Homo sapiens: one gene and its partners. The protein of the gene in region 1 purifies or fractionates together with the protein of each later gene. This does not show direct contact. Each region holds a gene or a part of one and is shown on either strand. Other genes may lie near its edges.

Evidence for each region.
Region 2: the proteins of MAP4 (region 1) and SPRYD3 purify together in Homo sapiens (affinity purification with mass spectrometry; one large-scale study listed by BioGRID and IntAct). This does not show direct contact.
Region 3: the proteins of MAP4 (region 1) and KIF2C purify together in Homo sapiens (affinity purification with mass spectrometry; one large-scale study listed by BioGRID and IntAct). This does not show direct contact.
Region 4: the proteins of MAP4 (region 1) and CCP110 purify together in Homo sapiens (affinity purification with mass spectrometry; one large-scale study listed by BioGRID and IntAct). This does not show direct contact.

What each region holds. Positions count from the first base shown.
Region 1 is NC_000003.12:47,855,917-47,859,416, forward strand, and holds part of MAP4 (microtubule-associated protein 4), read right to left. Parts: intron 1,597-3,500; coding exon 1,515-1,596; intron 1-1,514. UniProt on the Homo sapiens protein: Non-neuronal microtubule-associated protein. Promotes microtubule assembly.
Region 2 is NC_000012.12:53,076,591-53,080,735, reverse strand, and holds the start of SPRYD3 (SPRY domain-containing protein 3), read left to right. Parts: upstream 1-1,345; 5' UTR 1,346-1,402; coding exon 1,403-1,425; intron 1,426-3,474; coding exon 3,475-3,621; intron 3,622-4,145.
Region 3 is NC_000001.11:44,746,337-44,749,836, forward strand, and holds part of KIF2C (kinesin-like protein KIF2C), read left to right. Parts: intron 1-57; exon of another isoform or gene 58-420; coding exon of another isoform or gene 421-423; intron 424-1,047; coding exon 1,048-1,149; intron 1,150-1,315; coding exon 1,316-1,364; intron 1,365-3,500. UniProt on the Homo sapiens protein: In complex with KIF18B, constitutes the major microtubule plus-end depolymerizing activity in mitotic cells. Regulates the turnover of microtubules at the kinetochore and functions in chromosome segregation during mitosis.
Region 4 is NC_000016.10:19,544,442-19,547,941, forward strand, and holds part of CCP110 (centriolar coiled-coil protein of 110 kDa), read left to right. Parts: intron 1-355; coding exon 356-457; intron 458-652; coding exon 653-769; intron 770-1,375; coding exon 1,376-1,449; intron 1,450-1,970; coding exon 1,971-2,033; intron 2,034-3,500.

The DNA.
Region 1 (3,500 bases):
CTAGCAAAAAGAAGGAATAATAAAAAGGACAGAGTGGCCCCGAGGCTGTGCGCTGAGGAAGGAAAGACATGGACCAAGGCAGGCCTGGGATCTAGTGACCTCAGGCTAGGACGGGGAGGGAAAGTGGTCTGAACTCACGCCCAGGGTTCAGAGCTCACTGGCCAGAGTGTGCCCATGAGACCAAGGGGAAGGGTGCGGGACGAGCTGCCCTCAATGAGTACCCAGCCCCTCCCGCGCCCAGCAGCGTGGTTTCCCTTGGGCCCCTTCTCCTGTTCTTCCATCTCCTCTCAGCTCACATGGCAGACCTCCACGCACAGCTTCTGGCCGAGGTCTCCCGGTGTCCCATATTGGGAAACCCAGCCCTGGCAAAAACTAGACCCTAAGTGACTCAGTGTCATTAGAGAAGGAAGTATCTGATAGGAGATTTCCCAGATAAAAGGGGAAAAAAATGGTTAGTTAAGGACAGAACTGTTTTGATCTTTCTAAATAGAACACATTCTAAACTGGATCATGCTCTTCGCTGAGAGGGAAAGGGAGTTTTTTTTTTTTCTTTTTGGAGACAGAATTTCGCTCTGTTGCTCAGGCTGGAGTGCAGTGCCATACTCTCGCCTCACTGTAGTCTCTGCCTCCTGGGTTCAAGCAATTCTCCAAAGGCATGCACCACCACACCTAGCTAGTTTTTGTATTTTTAGTAGAGACAGGGTTTCACCATGTTGGCCAGGCTGTTCTCAAACTCCTGACCTCAAGTGATCCGCCCGCTTTGGCCTCCCAAAGTGCTGGGATTACAGGCATGAGACACCGCGCCCGCCCTGAGGGAAGAGAGTTTTGCCTTCACCTTATCTGGCCTGTGGTGGCTAGCCTTCTGGGATACCAGGTCTGCCAGCCAGTGTGCCTGCTGCTACAGCAGTCCTACTCACAAATCTGCTGTAGACCCAGGAACTAGGACACGAGGCTGCTAGGGGACTACCCAAGGCAAGAGCCCAGCCTCCGCACAGCGACTTCCACAGGGGCGCTGGGCCAACCATGTTGCTGGAAGGAAACTGCATTAGTGCAAGTTGCTGAACGCCTCCCATTCTCCTGCCAGGGCTAGCGGCTGATGCTTCACTGGTTGGGAGCACCCTTTGCTCCTGCATCTGATAGGTGGGACCTGAACACTGCCCTCTATACAGCTCCTTCAGCAGTAGCTTCTGTAATCCTCGTTTAGAGCCAATCCAGGTTCTCAGCTCAGAGTGCACCACTTCCCCAGGCCTAGCTCAATAGTTCCACACACACAGTAGGTACTCAAGAGAATGCCTGTGCAGATGGCTGCTGTAAGAAACTGCTCCTCCTCCACTTAGAGGTTAGCACCCGAACTCCTGCTCCCTGACAGAATGAGGACTGTGGTGTCCTGGGTAGTCTTCATGGGATGCTAAAGGCACAGAGATGAAACCCTTGCCAGCCAGCTGGCTGCCCAGCTGACCCATGGCAGGACGACATACCCTGGAGACCCAGTGGGCAAGGGAGGCACCACTCACCAGGCTTGTGCTTGATGTTAGCCTTAGACCCACACTTGGAGGAGACCTTAGAGATGTCCACTTTCTTGTTCTGAATCTGAACCTGAAGAGAAGGACACAAAAGACTCATTCAGAGAGAAGGTATACTGTCAGAGCCAACCCCATGCTACCTTTTAAATCTTCTCCATGTTCAGGGTTTCTCGCTCCCTCTGTAAGCTGCTATCTCAGTCTGGTCAAAGACAAGGTCATCTCCCTAAGTACTTAAAAGAGCCCTCGACCCACCCTGGCCCTGCTCTTCACTTCCTTTTTTTTTTTTAAAGATGGAGTCTCGCTCTGTTGCCCAGGCTGGAGTACAGTGGTACGATCTCAGCTCGCTATAACCTCCGCCTCCTGGGGTCAAGCAATTCTCCTGCCTCAGCCTCCCGAGTAGCTGGGATTACAGGCGTGTACCACCACATCTGGCTAATTTTTTGTATTTTTAGTAGAGACAAGGTTTCACCATGTTGGCCAGGCTGGTCTCGAACTCCTGACCTCAGGAGATCCACCCACCTCAGATTTCCAGAGCCCAGAGTGTTGGGATTACAGGCGTGAGCCACCACGCCTGGCCTTCACTTTTTTTTTTTTTTTTTTTAAGACAGAGTTTCACTCTTGTTGCCCAGGCTGGCACGATCTTGGCTCACCCCAGCCTCCATCTCCCGGGTTCAAGTGATTCTTCTGCCTCAGCCTCTGGAGTAGCTAGGATTACAGGCATGCGCCACCACGCCCAGCTAATTTTGTATTTTTAGTAGAGACAGGGTTTCTCCATATTGGTCAGGCTGGTCTCGAACTCCTGACCTCAGGTGATCCGCCTGCCTCAGGATCCCAAAGTGCTGGAATTACAGGTGTGAGCCACCACGCCCGGCCACCAGCCTTCACTTCTAACCCCACCTCCAGCCAGACCAAACCACCATTTCCACACCCCACAGGTCTTTCTGTGCAGACCCTGTCCATGCATGCTCCAGACAGCTCTTCTGTCATTTCACCAGGTCCAAACACCAGCACCAAGGCTCCCATGAAATATCCCCTTTATTCCATCTCAAATCCTTACCTATCAACTCCTTGCCCAGAGAACCTGGAATAACATATTTACTTCTAGTCCTTTTCAATGCATTTTCCCCTTGGGAGAGGTGAGGGGGTGGTGTGTGTGTGTGTGTGTGTGTGTGTGTGCGCGTTGTGTGTGTGTGTGTGTGTGTGTGTAATCATAGTATTCCTGCTTAATCCATGTTATAACAATTTTCCCAGCCAGGTGCAGTGGGTCATGCCTGTAATCCCAGCACTTTGGGAGGCTGAGGCAGGCAGATCACCTGTGGCTAGGAGTTTGAGACCAGCCTGGCCAGCACAGTGAAACTCTATCTCTACTAAAAATGCAAAAATTTGCATTTAAAGGTGGTGCACCTTGGCTGGGCACGGTGGCTCACGCCTGTAATCCCAGCACTTTGGGAGGCTAAGGCGGGCGGATCACGAGGTCAGGAGATCGAGACCATCCTGGCTAACATGGTGAAACCCCGTCTCTACTAAAAATACAAAAAAAATTAGCCGGGCGTGGTGGCAGGTGCCTGTAGTCCCAGTACTCGGGAGGCTGAGGCAGGAGAATGGCATGAACTCGGGAGGCAGAGCTTGCAGTGAGCCGAGATCGTGCCACTGCACTCCAGCCTGGGCAACAGAAAGAGACTCCGCCTCAAAAAAAAAAGGTGGTGCATCTTTAAGTCTATAGCCATGCATGCCCTCTGGGTTGCTGGATGGGGATTCCAGCATTCCTGTGAGCGGCCCCGCTGTCCTCTGGTAGGTACTGTGGGAGAGCCTGACTTTCCAACACATCAACTCCATGCAGTGTTGCACCATTCTGGTGGGTTTCACCACAAGCTGTTAAATGGTGAGCTACCTTCTTGAGCCCTGTTTTCCCTTCTTTGGTGTCAGGAAATATAGTCTTCACCATGTTTCCAGAGGACAGATATAATGCCACCAGTA
Region 2 (4,145 bases), on another chromosome or scaffold:
TCTGTTTCCCATCTCATCTATTCCTATCACCCATTGCCGTTATGCCGAGTGGGCACTATTCACGGTATGCGAGCTGATGGCTTTCCTGGCACTCAACACGTTAGAGTACCTAGTGTGATAAGAATAGAATAGTCTGGGGTCTGAAGGAGCTCACAGTCTAGCAGAGACGGGTCTACACACACAAGTAACTCCAATAACGAAAGCAAGACGGTAATAAGTGTTATAAATGGCGGGGGGCGGTGGCTCACGCCTGTAATCCCAACACTTTGGGAGGCCGAGGTGGGCGGATCAAGAGGTCAGGAGATCGAGACCATCCTGGCTAACACGGTGAAACCCCGTCTCTACCAAAAATACAAAAAAAATTAGCTTGGCGTGGTGGCGGGCGCCTGTAGTCCCAGCTACTTGGGAGGCTGAGGCAGGAGAATGGCGTGAACCCAGGAGGCAGAGCTTGCAGTGAGCCGAGATCGCGCCACTGCACTCCAGCCTGGGCGACAGAGTGAGACTCCGTCTCAAAAAAAAAAGTATTATAAATGAGGTGCTACAGAGGAGAGGAATCTTTTCCGTCCAGAAGAGAGAGATATGGTGATGGGAAGGGAGCAAGGAAGTCCTCATCTAGGAGTCCAACCCCCCAGAATGGCAGGTAGGCACTCCCTAGTAGGTGTTCAATAAATATTCGTGTCTTCGTCCCTTCACATTCTAACCCCAGTCTAACTTTCCTTCAGCCTACCAAAGCCCTGTGTTCCTCCACAGAATGCCGCTTCGTGCCACTGTGCCTTCTGCATCCCCAGTTCTCTCCTCCTGGAATGGAATGTTCTTGCCAATAATGAGCGAGCGGTGCCATGAAACAGAGCTCGGGAGGGTACACAGCATAACAGTTAAGCGCGCAGGCTATCGAGGCCAGCCTTCGGCCCATCCGTAAAAAGGAGATAAGATTTATTTCATAAGGCTGCACCGTGGATTAAATGGACATTCCGGTAAAGCTTTTATTTCAGTCCAGCGCGGAAGGAGGGCTCAAGTAATACTCGCAACGTTTGTGCGAGCGTGGCCACCTTCTCCGCCCGTCCCGTCTCCCCGGCGCCGCTCAAGAGCCGCCCCCTGTCCGCCTCAGCGGCGCCCAGGCACCCAGCAGCGTCCGCGCTGCCACGTCGCCTTCGCTCACCCCAGCAACAGCCGGGTTGACCAGACCGGGGCCCTGAGCTGGGTACCCAGGGCACCGGGCCGCGCCCCACACCCTGCCTGCGCCTTCCGATTGGCTCCTGCAGGTGCCCGTCGTCAGAGGCCGTTGCTGATTGGCTTAGATGGGGGACGGGGCGGGCCTCTAGGAGTGAAGGAAAGGCGGGGACCCGGATGTGTGTGGTGGCGGCGGCCGAAGAGCTTGTGTGCGGAGCTGAGAGGCCTATGGATGAGGAGGACGCGGCGGCCCCGGTAGGCGGGGATCGGGGGCGGGGTCCCGGAGGCCTCGTATCTCCCCGGAGCCTGAAGCGGAAGGCGGGGGTCCTGGGCGGGGGCTCTGGGGCCAGGGGCGGGGCCCTGCGCTCTGGTCACTGGGCTTCTTCTGTTGCTGCACCCTCGGCCCAGTGCAGGGCCTGGGGAGACTGGGCGTAGGCACACGGATGGGCTGGGGCCCGGCTGCTCCCGGGTCTCATCTCAGTGATCAGGCCGTGCCCGGGGAGGAGACAGGGCCCAGTAGGGCCGCCACTCGCCGGTGCCAAGACTGTGGGGTCTGCGCAACCAGCATCTACCTGGGGTTGAGTCCTGGCTGAGTGCCCGGGAGTGGAATCTTAGGGCTGTCTGTCCCACAGGTGCCTACTCTTCTGGGCCACGTGGTGGGTTGTAGCTACTGCATAAGAGTCGTAATTTGCGTATTGGGATCAAATTCAGCCCAGCCAAGGCTTACTAAGCACCTACCGTGTGCAAGGCAATGTCAGGCCTCAAGAAAACCCCTGTCCCAGTGTTTAGGGAATGGGAAGAGAAGAGTACTTCACCTCTTTCTCACTTTTGGCTCCCAGGAAAAATCATTCATTCATTTATATGTAGGGACTGATGGTTGTTTAAATACCTGGATCATCCCACCCCCATCCATCGGCGCTGCTACCGACTTAGTGGATGTCATTTCTCATGTGAACTGCTGCAACAACGTCTGAATTGTTTGCCCACATCTGTTCTTGATCCTCTTGTGATCAGTTCTCCAACCAGCAGCTGGAATGATCTTTAGGAACTGATTAAGATCGTGGCTTTTTTTTTTTTTTTTGAGATGGAGTTTCTGTCACCCAGGCTGGAGTGCAGTGGGACGATCTCGGCTCACTGCAAACTCCACCTCCCAGGTTCAAGCAATTCTCTTGCCTCAGCCTCCTGAGTAGCTGGGATTACAGGTGCGCACCACCACGCCTGGCTAATTTGTTTGTATTTTTAGTAGAGATGGGGTTTCACCATGTTGGTCAGGCTGGTCTTCAACTTCTGACCTTGTGATCCTCCCACTTCGGCCTCCCAAAGTGCTGGGATCACAGACGTGAGCCACCAGGCCCAGGATCATGGCATTTTTTTTTCTTTTTTTTTTGAGACAGGGTCTTGCTCTGTCAGCCAGGCTGGAATGTAGTGGCACAATCAGAACTGACTGCAGCCTTGACCTGCCAGACTCAAGCCATCTTCAGTCTCCTTAGTAGCTGGGACTACAGGTGCATGCTGCCACACCTGGCTCATTGTTTTAATTTTTAGTAGAGATGAGGTCTCACTACGTTGCCCAGGCTGGTCTGGGTCCTGGCCTCAAGCGATCCTCCTGCCTCAGCCTCCCAAGGTGCTGGGATTGCAGGCATGAGCCATCATACCCAGCCAATCATGGCATTTCCTTGCTTACAACCCTCCAGAAATTTCCATCTTGGAATAAAATCCAGAGTCCTTACCATTTCATTGTCTGTAGGGCCATGATCTGACTCCTGCCTTATTCTCATCTTGTACATTCTCCCTCACATTCCCTATATACCAGCTGTCCATGCCTTTTTCTGTTTCTCTACCATGCCAGCTCTCTTCCATCCAAGGACCTGTGGCTGCCCTTCCTGCCTGGAATATGCCTGGCTTGTCATGCCTAGCTCCTTTTCAACTCAAATGTCACCTCCTCAGAGAGACCGCCTCTGTCCACTCTATCCACTGCCTCCAGATTCTTTATCATATCACCCTGTTCTTTTCTCCACTGCCTGAAATTATGTCTGTTTATTGCCTGTCGTGTCCACCTCCCAGCCTGTGAGAATGGGAATCCTGTCCATCTTGTTCACAGCTCCATCCCTAGCACGGAGAAAAGCACACAGAGTAGGTGCTTGGTAAATGTTTGTTGAATGGAAGAAAGAAGATGAGGGTTGTTGAGGTCAATCTGGGCAGCTGGCCTCAAGGCCAGTGCCTTCTCTACCTTCTGGGTCACAGAGGCTGAGGTGCTTTACCTAGGGCCCTGCTTTCTCCTCAATCCCCTTCTCCCCTTGGCAGGTTTGTTCTCATGAACAAGATGGATGACCTCAACCTGCACTACCGGTTTCTGAATTGGCGCCGGCGGATCCGGGAGATTCGAGAGGTCCGAGCTTTCCGATATCAGGAGAGGTTCAAACATATCCTTGTAGATGGAGATACTTTAAGGTGAGTTCAGGAGAATGCTTCCACATTTTCTTCTCTGTTCCAGATCTTAGAGAGGAAAGGGTTTTTTTTTTTTAACTTTTATTTTTTCAGAGAAGGGGACTGTGCACTGCACAGGGAAGGGCGATGCTCTTGACTCCAGAGGCCTTTCTTTTTCTTTTTTTTTTTTAAGACAGAGTCTCGCTCTGTCACCCAGGCTACAGTGCAGTGGCGTGATCTCAGCTCACTGCAACCTCCGCCTCCTGGGTTCAAGCGATTCTCCTGCCTCAGCTTCCCAAGTAGCTGGGATTACAGGCGTGCACCACCACATACGGCTGATTTTTTATATTTTTGGTAGAGACAGGGTTTCACCATGTTGGCCAGGCAGGTCTTGAACTCCTGACTTCAAGTGATCCACCCGCCCAGAGGCCTTTCTGAGTGGAGCAGTGTGTGCTGCTTCACCCTGCACTCACCTCTGCCTCTGTCACTGGGTGGCTCTGTCCTCATCCAGCAAGGAGGGGATCCAGCTGGGTAGGGGAAGGGATCAC
Region 3 (3,500 bases), on another chromosome or scaffold:
TCTGATGATGTAAACTTAGAATTGTGACCTCATTGCAGGCATCAACAGGAAATAGGTAAGGCATGGGCAGGAAGCCGTAACTGGGGAAGTTTCTGGGCCCAGAAGAAAATGTAGGTAGTCTTAGGGTTAGGTAGCAGCTGTCAGGAACTTGCCCCTGCCCATAAGATCCTAAAGGGCCCCCATTTGACTCTCACCAGACAGTTAGAACTTGTTTCCTCCTCCGTGTCAGCCATCAAGAGGTGCTTGGGGGGCTGTGCCCAGCAGGACCTCACTGCCCAGCAGATCAGCAGGGGAGCCAAGTGGCCTAGATCTGCTGTGGAGTACCCGACTGTTTGCCTGCCTGTCTGCCCTCCTCTTCACCTCATTCTCATCACTGACGTCTACCATTGGCTTGGAAATCAGAAACCCATATCCATCTAGATGGTAAACCATTATTAAGGAGTAACTATTTGTTTTATAGCTATTCATACTTAGTGGAACTTAAAGTTGGTAAAGTTTGAATTTAGGGGTACCCCTGTCTATAGAAATTTAATTTTTTCTATGTTGTTTTTTTGTTTGTTTGTTTGTTTTTTGTTTTTTGAGACAGAGTCTTGCTCTGTTGCCCAGGCTGGAGGGCAGTGGCTCAATCTCAGCTCAATGCAACCTCCGCCTCCTGGATTCCAGCAATTCTCCCGCCTCAGCCTCGGGGGGGCCAGGCACAGTGGCTCACACCTGTAATCCCAGCACTTTAGGAGGCCGAGGTGGGGAGATCACCTGAGGCCAGGAGTTTGAGACCATCCTGGCCAACATGGTGAAACCCTGTCTCTACTGGAAATACAAAAATTAGCTGGGCGTGGTGGCGCATGCCTGTAGTCCCAGCTACTCAGGAGGCTGAGGCAGGAGAATTGCTTGGACCCAGGAGGCAGAGGTTGCATTGAACCAAGATCGCACCACTGCCCTCCAGCCTGGGCGACAGAGCGATACTCTGTCTCAAAAAAAAAAAAAAAGAAAAAATGTATTTGGATTGAACAATGTTGTTTCATTGAAACTTTTACTTGCTCCTTGCAGATTGATTTTGATGATGTGGCTGCAATAAACCCAGAACTCTTACAGCTTCTTCCCTTACATCCGAAGGACAATCTGCCCTTGCAGGAAAATGTAACAATCCAGGTAGGTGCCTGTCATCTGGCTGCAGCCAGTGCGCCAGAGAATTCACTTTGCTTATTGACTCTTTGCTGATTGATTGTCTGGCATTTTAGCATAGTACATGGGCCCAGGATGGGCCCTTGAGAATTGATAAGAGCCATATATTGTGACAATTTGATTTGTTTTTCAGAAACAAAAACGGAGATCCGTCAACTCCAAAATTCCTGCTCCAAAAGAAAGTAAGTGGATTTCTACTAGCTTACTATCATGGAATTTGTGTCAGGAATTATGTTTCTAGGACTCAGAGTTGTGGAAGCTCCTCTTTTGCAGGTGGTTTCTATGTGGGTTGAGTCCTGCCTGTGTTCCAAGCATCTTTCTCTATGAGAAAGAATCCAATCTACAGCTATCAGGCCAACCTTTAAGAGACCTGGTGCATTTAGGAAATTTGCTGCCTGGCCTAGAAACCTTTTCTGTAGAATCCAGAGCCTGATGCTGAGGAGAGTAGGAATCAGCCATTGGTAGGCCTTTTTTCTTCCCTCGGGGCTCAGCCCCCTCAGTGGAACAGTATGCCTTGGAAAGAGATTTTGAAAATGGGAGACACTAGGCCTGTGGGTTGTTTAGAAGTACAGTTGGTGGCGCTATAGAGAGGGATGGCTGGGGCTGGAGAGAATAACAGCATTGCCTCGTGGTCTAGGAGGTTGGGAGTCTCTCTGCAGAAGTAGTCTGTGAAAACCTACTTTGACAACATGATAGACTGTGACTCTAGGGGGTAAGCTTCCCAAAAGATCCAGCTTAAAGCCAGTTGTACCTTGAAGGCTGGTGACCTGCACAGCTCTCCAGGTCTAGGGGTCATCATTGCCCTGAAATGATTCAGCTACCTCAGGGACTCACAGAATACTTGGCTGGAGCTTCAGGTTCTGGGGGCCCTGAGTGGAAGGTGGTGCCATTGCAAGCTTGGGCCTGACTATTGTGGTGCTGGCCCTTTCTTGCTGGGTGTACCGTAAGGTCATGCAGGAGAGTTGGGACTCGCAGCAGTCCCATTCCGTGTTCATGTCCTCAAAGGATATTGCCCCAGCTTTGTTTTGTTTTGTTTTTCAAAGGCAGGGTCTCACTTGGTTGTCCATGCTGGAATACCATGATATGATCGTAGCTCACTGTAGCCTTGAACTCTTGGGCTCAGGCAATCCTCCCACCTCAGCCTCCCATGTAGCTGGGACTACAGGTGTGCCCCATCACACCTGGCTAATTTTTTTTTTTTTTTTTTTTGTAGAGACAAGGTCTCACTATGTTGCCTGGGCTGGTCTCAAACTCCTGGCCTCAAGTGATCCTCCTGCTTCAGCCTCCTAAAGTGCTAGGATTGCAGGCGCGAGCCACCATGCCCAGCCAATAGCTTTTTTTCTTTAGGATGGAGTCTCGCTTTGTTGCCTAAGCTGGTCTTGAACTCCTAGCTTCAAGCAGTCCTCCTGCCTCAGCCTCCCAAAGTGCTGGGACTACAGGCACACACCACCATGCCCAGCTACACAGCTCATTTTAATGGAAAAAAAAATCTTTAAGGCCCTGAGCAGTAGCTCATGCCTGTAATCCCAGCACTTTGAGGGGCCAAGGTGGGCAGATCACCTGAGGTCAGGAGTTCCAAGCCAGCCTGGTCAACATGGTGAAACCCTGTCTCTATTCAAAATACAAAAAACTGGCCGGGTGTGGTGGCTCACACCTGTAATCCCAGCATTTTAGGAGGCCAAGGCGGGTGGATCACCTGAGGTCAGGAGTTCAAGACTAGCCTGGCCAACATGGTGAAACCCCTGTCTCTACTAAAAATACAAAAATTAGCCAGGCGTGGTGGTGGGTGCCTGTAATCCCAGCTACTCAGGAAGCTGAGGCAGGAGAATCGTTTGAGCCCGGGGGGGCAGAGGTTGCAGTGAGCCGAGATCATGCCACTGTACTCCAGCCTGGGTGACAGAGTGAGACTCGGTCTCAAAAAAACAAAGAAAAAAAATTACAGATCATTTGGGGCTAGATGTGATGGCTCACACCTGTAAGCCCAGTGCTTTGGGATGTTGAGGCAGGAAGATGGCTTGAACCTAGGAGTTTGAGACCAGCCTGGGCAATATAGCAAGACTCAGTCTTATTATAAAAATAAAAAATAAAATAAAATCATTAGGGAAATAGGACGATTGTAAAAATTCAAAACATGGATTATATATAGCCATCAGCCTGAACTTATAATACTCAGAAACTGGGTAGAAGTTGGTTTTGGCAGAGGTTGCAGTGAGCCAAGATCATGCCACTGCACTCCAGCCTGGGTGGCAGTGTGAGACTCTGTCTCTCAAAAAAGATGGGCTGGGCACGGTGGTTCACACCTGTAATCCCAGCACTTT
Region 4 (3,500 bases), on another chromosome or scaffold:
ACAAATGATGGTTGTGTCTGTACTGAACATGTACAAATTTTTTTTCCTTGTCATTATTTCCTAAACAATATAACAACTATTTACATAGCATGTACATTTATTAGGTATTTTAACTAATCTAGAGATGATTTAAAGTATATGGGAGATGTGCTTAGGTTATATGCAGATAACTATTTTATATAAGGGACTCCAGCATCCTTGGATTTTGGTATCTGAGGGATTCATGGAACCAGTCCCCCACAGATACTGACGAAAGACTGTAATTTTGGATTGACTGAGAAAAAGAAAAAAGCAAACTCCAGTGATCACAAATCTTTCTAGAAAAATGTTTTTGAAGGAGCATTTCTTTTTTCAGGATACTATGGAATTCATAAGAAGTTTTCAGTCAGAAGCACCATTAAAGAGAGGCATTGTTTCAGCTCAAGATGCTTCACTTCAGGAAAGAGTGTTAGCTCAGGTAAATACATGGATCCTGAAGGCTTTTAAGACATGGACATATTATATTTCTCCTTTTTTATTTAATCACTGAAAATAGGTTTCAATGAAAACTATTTTAATCTTTTTCTATAAATAAGTGTACATGGTATATAGTATTCCTGAACTCTAACCTCATCTTTTAAATGTATACAATATTTTCTTCTCTTGTGCCTAGTTGCGAGCTGCCTTGTACGGTATTCATGACATATTCTTTGTAATGGATGCAGCTGAAAGAATGTCTATTCTACATCATGATCGAGAAGTTCGCAAAGAGAAAATGCTCAGGCAAATGGTATGTTATATGATTTCTAATGAATAGAGTTCTTCTGGGTTTAGGGTAATTGATACTAAATGTCAGTTTTGGTTGACTTCAGCACCCTTCTTCTGATAATTCTTAAGCACAAGTAATTCCTGGAATTACTAGCAGCATTTAAATCTGTAGACAGATTTAAAAGAATTACATCATTTAAGAATTACATATTGTTTTCTTATTGGATTTTAGAGTTGAAGCTTTGAATGTTTTGCTCAGATGGCTTATACAATCTATCAGCTGCTCCTGATTGAATTTCCTTGAATTCAATTATAATGTGGGTTTTGCTTTTTTTGAAATCTGAGTTAGAAAACAGGCTCCAAGTTAATTTGAAGTATATCAGAGTATGTGATTTGAATCAGTTATCTTAGTGTGATTGGCAAAGGAAAAGCAAGCAAAATTTACATAATTCTAATTATTTAATTCTTAGAATTAGACTGCTTCAAAAATACAAAACAAGATGATTTAACTAAATTAAAAATGTTAGTAGAGAGAAGCTTTTCCAGGCAATGTGGGATTATAATACATTATAATATAGTGGTATTAATTGGTTCCAGTAGAGTTTGACGTTACTTTTGTATATTAAAGGATAAAATGAAAAGTCCACGAGTGGCTCTTTCAGCTGCAACACAGAAGTCTCTTGATAGGAAGAAATACATGAAGTAAGTTTTTTGTATCATGTCATGTTAGTTATCAAACCAATTAATTTTAGTCATCTGTTGGTCTATTTGCATATTTAAATTTAGAAATAAAGAGTTAATTTTTCTGCAGTTGAGCTGATAGAAATCCCCTTTATATAAAGAAATTTATTAAAATCAGGTGCTAAAATCTCATTTCATCTTAGATGAATTTATTTACTAAATTTGACAACATTCAACTCATATAACTGATAGCTGGTTAATCTTAAAAACAGTTAATCTTTATATTCAGTGCCTAAATATATTCCTTTTCTGATGTCCTAAAGGTTTCTTGGGAATAAAGACTTAATGGGAAAAATATCTTAATAACTTTTTTAAAAAATTCTTCTTTCTTGAATGCAGTCTTTAATATGCTTAGTACAGGTCTTCCAGTAGTACACCAGCTTCTAAATGATGATTTGTTTCTGTCATCCTGTATTACATTTGTAAGCATGTTTTCTTCCCTTCTCTAAATACATTATGTCCTTATTTTTATATTGTGTTAGAGCTGCTGAAATGGGAATGCCAAATAAGAAATTTCTGGTTAAACAAAATCCTTCTGAAACAAGGTGAGAAAAATCACTTAGTCTTAATGAGAGGCTTTTTGTTTTTTATAGAAAAAAAAAATTGGCTGGGCACGGTGGCTCACGCCTGTAATCCCAGAACTTTGGGAGGCCAAGACGGATGGATCACCTGAGGTCGGGAGTTTGAGACCAGCCTGACCAACATGGAAAACCCCATCTCTACTAAAAATACAAAATTAGCTGGGTGTGGTGGCACATGCCTGTAATCCCAGCTACTCAAGAGGCTGAGGCAGGAGAATCGCTTGAACCCGGGAGGCAGAGGTTGCAGTGAGCCAAGATTGCTCCATTGCACTCCAGCCTGGGCAACAAGAGTGAAACTCTATCTCAAAAAAAAAAAAAAAAAAAGTTAAAAAATTAAAATTTAAATCCCAAACTTCATTTTTGTTGACTTTGTTCTACTTGACATCAGTAGAGCACTTCTTGCTGAATTGGGTCGGGGGTCGTCCTCAGGCTCAAGATTCATACCAATACCTGGCCATATACCTAGTCACATGTCAGACCAGATGTGCCCGGACCTTTTGTAGGACATGCTATCTGTGGTAGAAATTTTGAGCGTGGTATGTCTTGAGTTCAGTTAGACAGTCCAGAGGATCTTTGATACTTATTTAAAAACCTTAGAAAGCTAATTTAAGCTGGGCTGGGAGCAGTGGCTCATGCTTGTTATCCTAGCAGTCTGGGAGGGTGAGGTGGGTGGATCACGAGGTCAGGAGTTCAAGACCAGCCTGGCCAAGATGGTGAAATCCTGTCTCTATTAAAAATACAAAAATAAAAGATACAAAAAGCCGGGTATGATGGCGCGTGCCTGCTCAGCTACTCAGGAGGCTGAGGCAGGAGAATTGTTTGAACCTGGGAGGCGGAGGTTGCAGTGAGCCGAGACTGCACCACTGTACTCCATCCTGGGCGACAGAGCAAGGGTCCGTCTCAAAAAAAAGCTAACTTAAGCTGGGCACAGTGGCATGCTCCTATGGTCCCAGGTACTCGGGAGGCTGAGGCAGGAGGATAGCTTAAGCCCAGAAATTCAAACCAGTATGGGTAACATAGTAAGACCCATCTCAAAAAAATAAATAAATAAAAAATAAAGCTAAAAAGCGAACTTTAATATTTCTGACCTGTTTTTTACTCCTGTAAAATGAGAGTGATACTTTCTTCTCTCACTGGTTTGAAGGGAAAAGTTAGCTTTTGTAAAGCATATGTATAAGAAAATTATCTAAAAGCACAAGGGTTAGTCTATATGTTGGACATTTCTTTGCTGATAAAAACCTAAGGTTTGGACTCTTAGTGAGCAAAATACAAGTATCATATTAATATGCTTTAGTCGATTTGCTCTGATTTGTGGTAATATATAGGCCATATTATTGCATAGTTGACCTTTACCTTACAGTCATCATCTTTCATCCGTTGAAAGAAAATGGGAAAAAATGGAATTTAACCTATTAAATTAATTTTTCATTT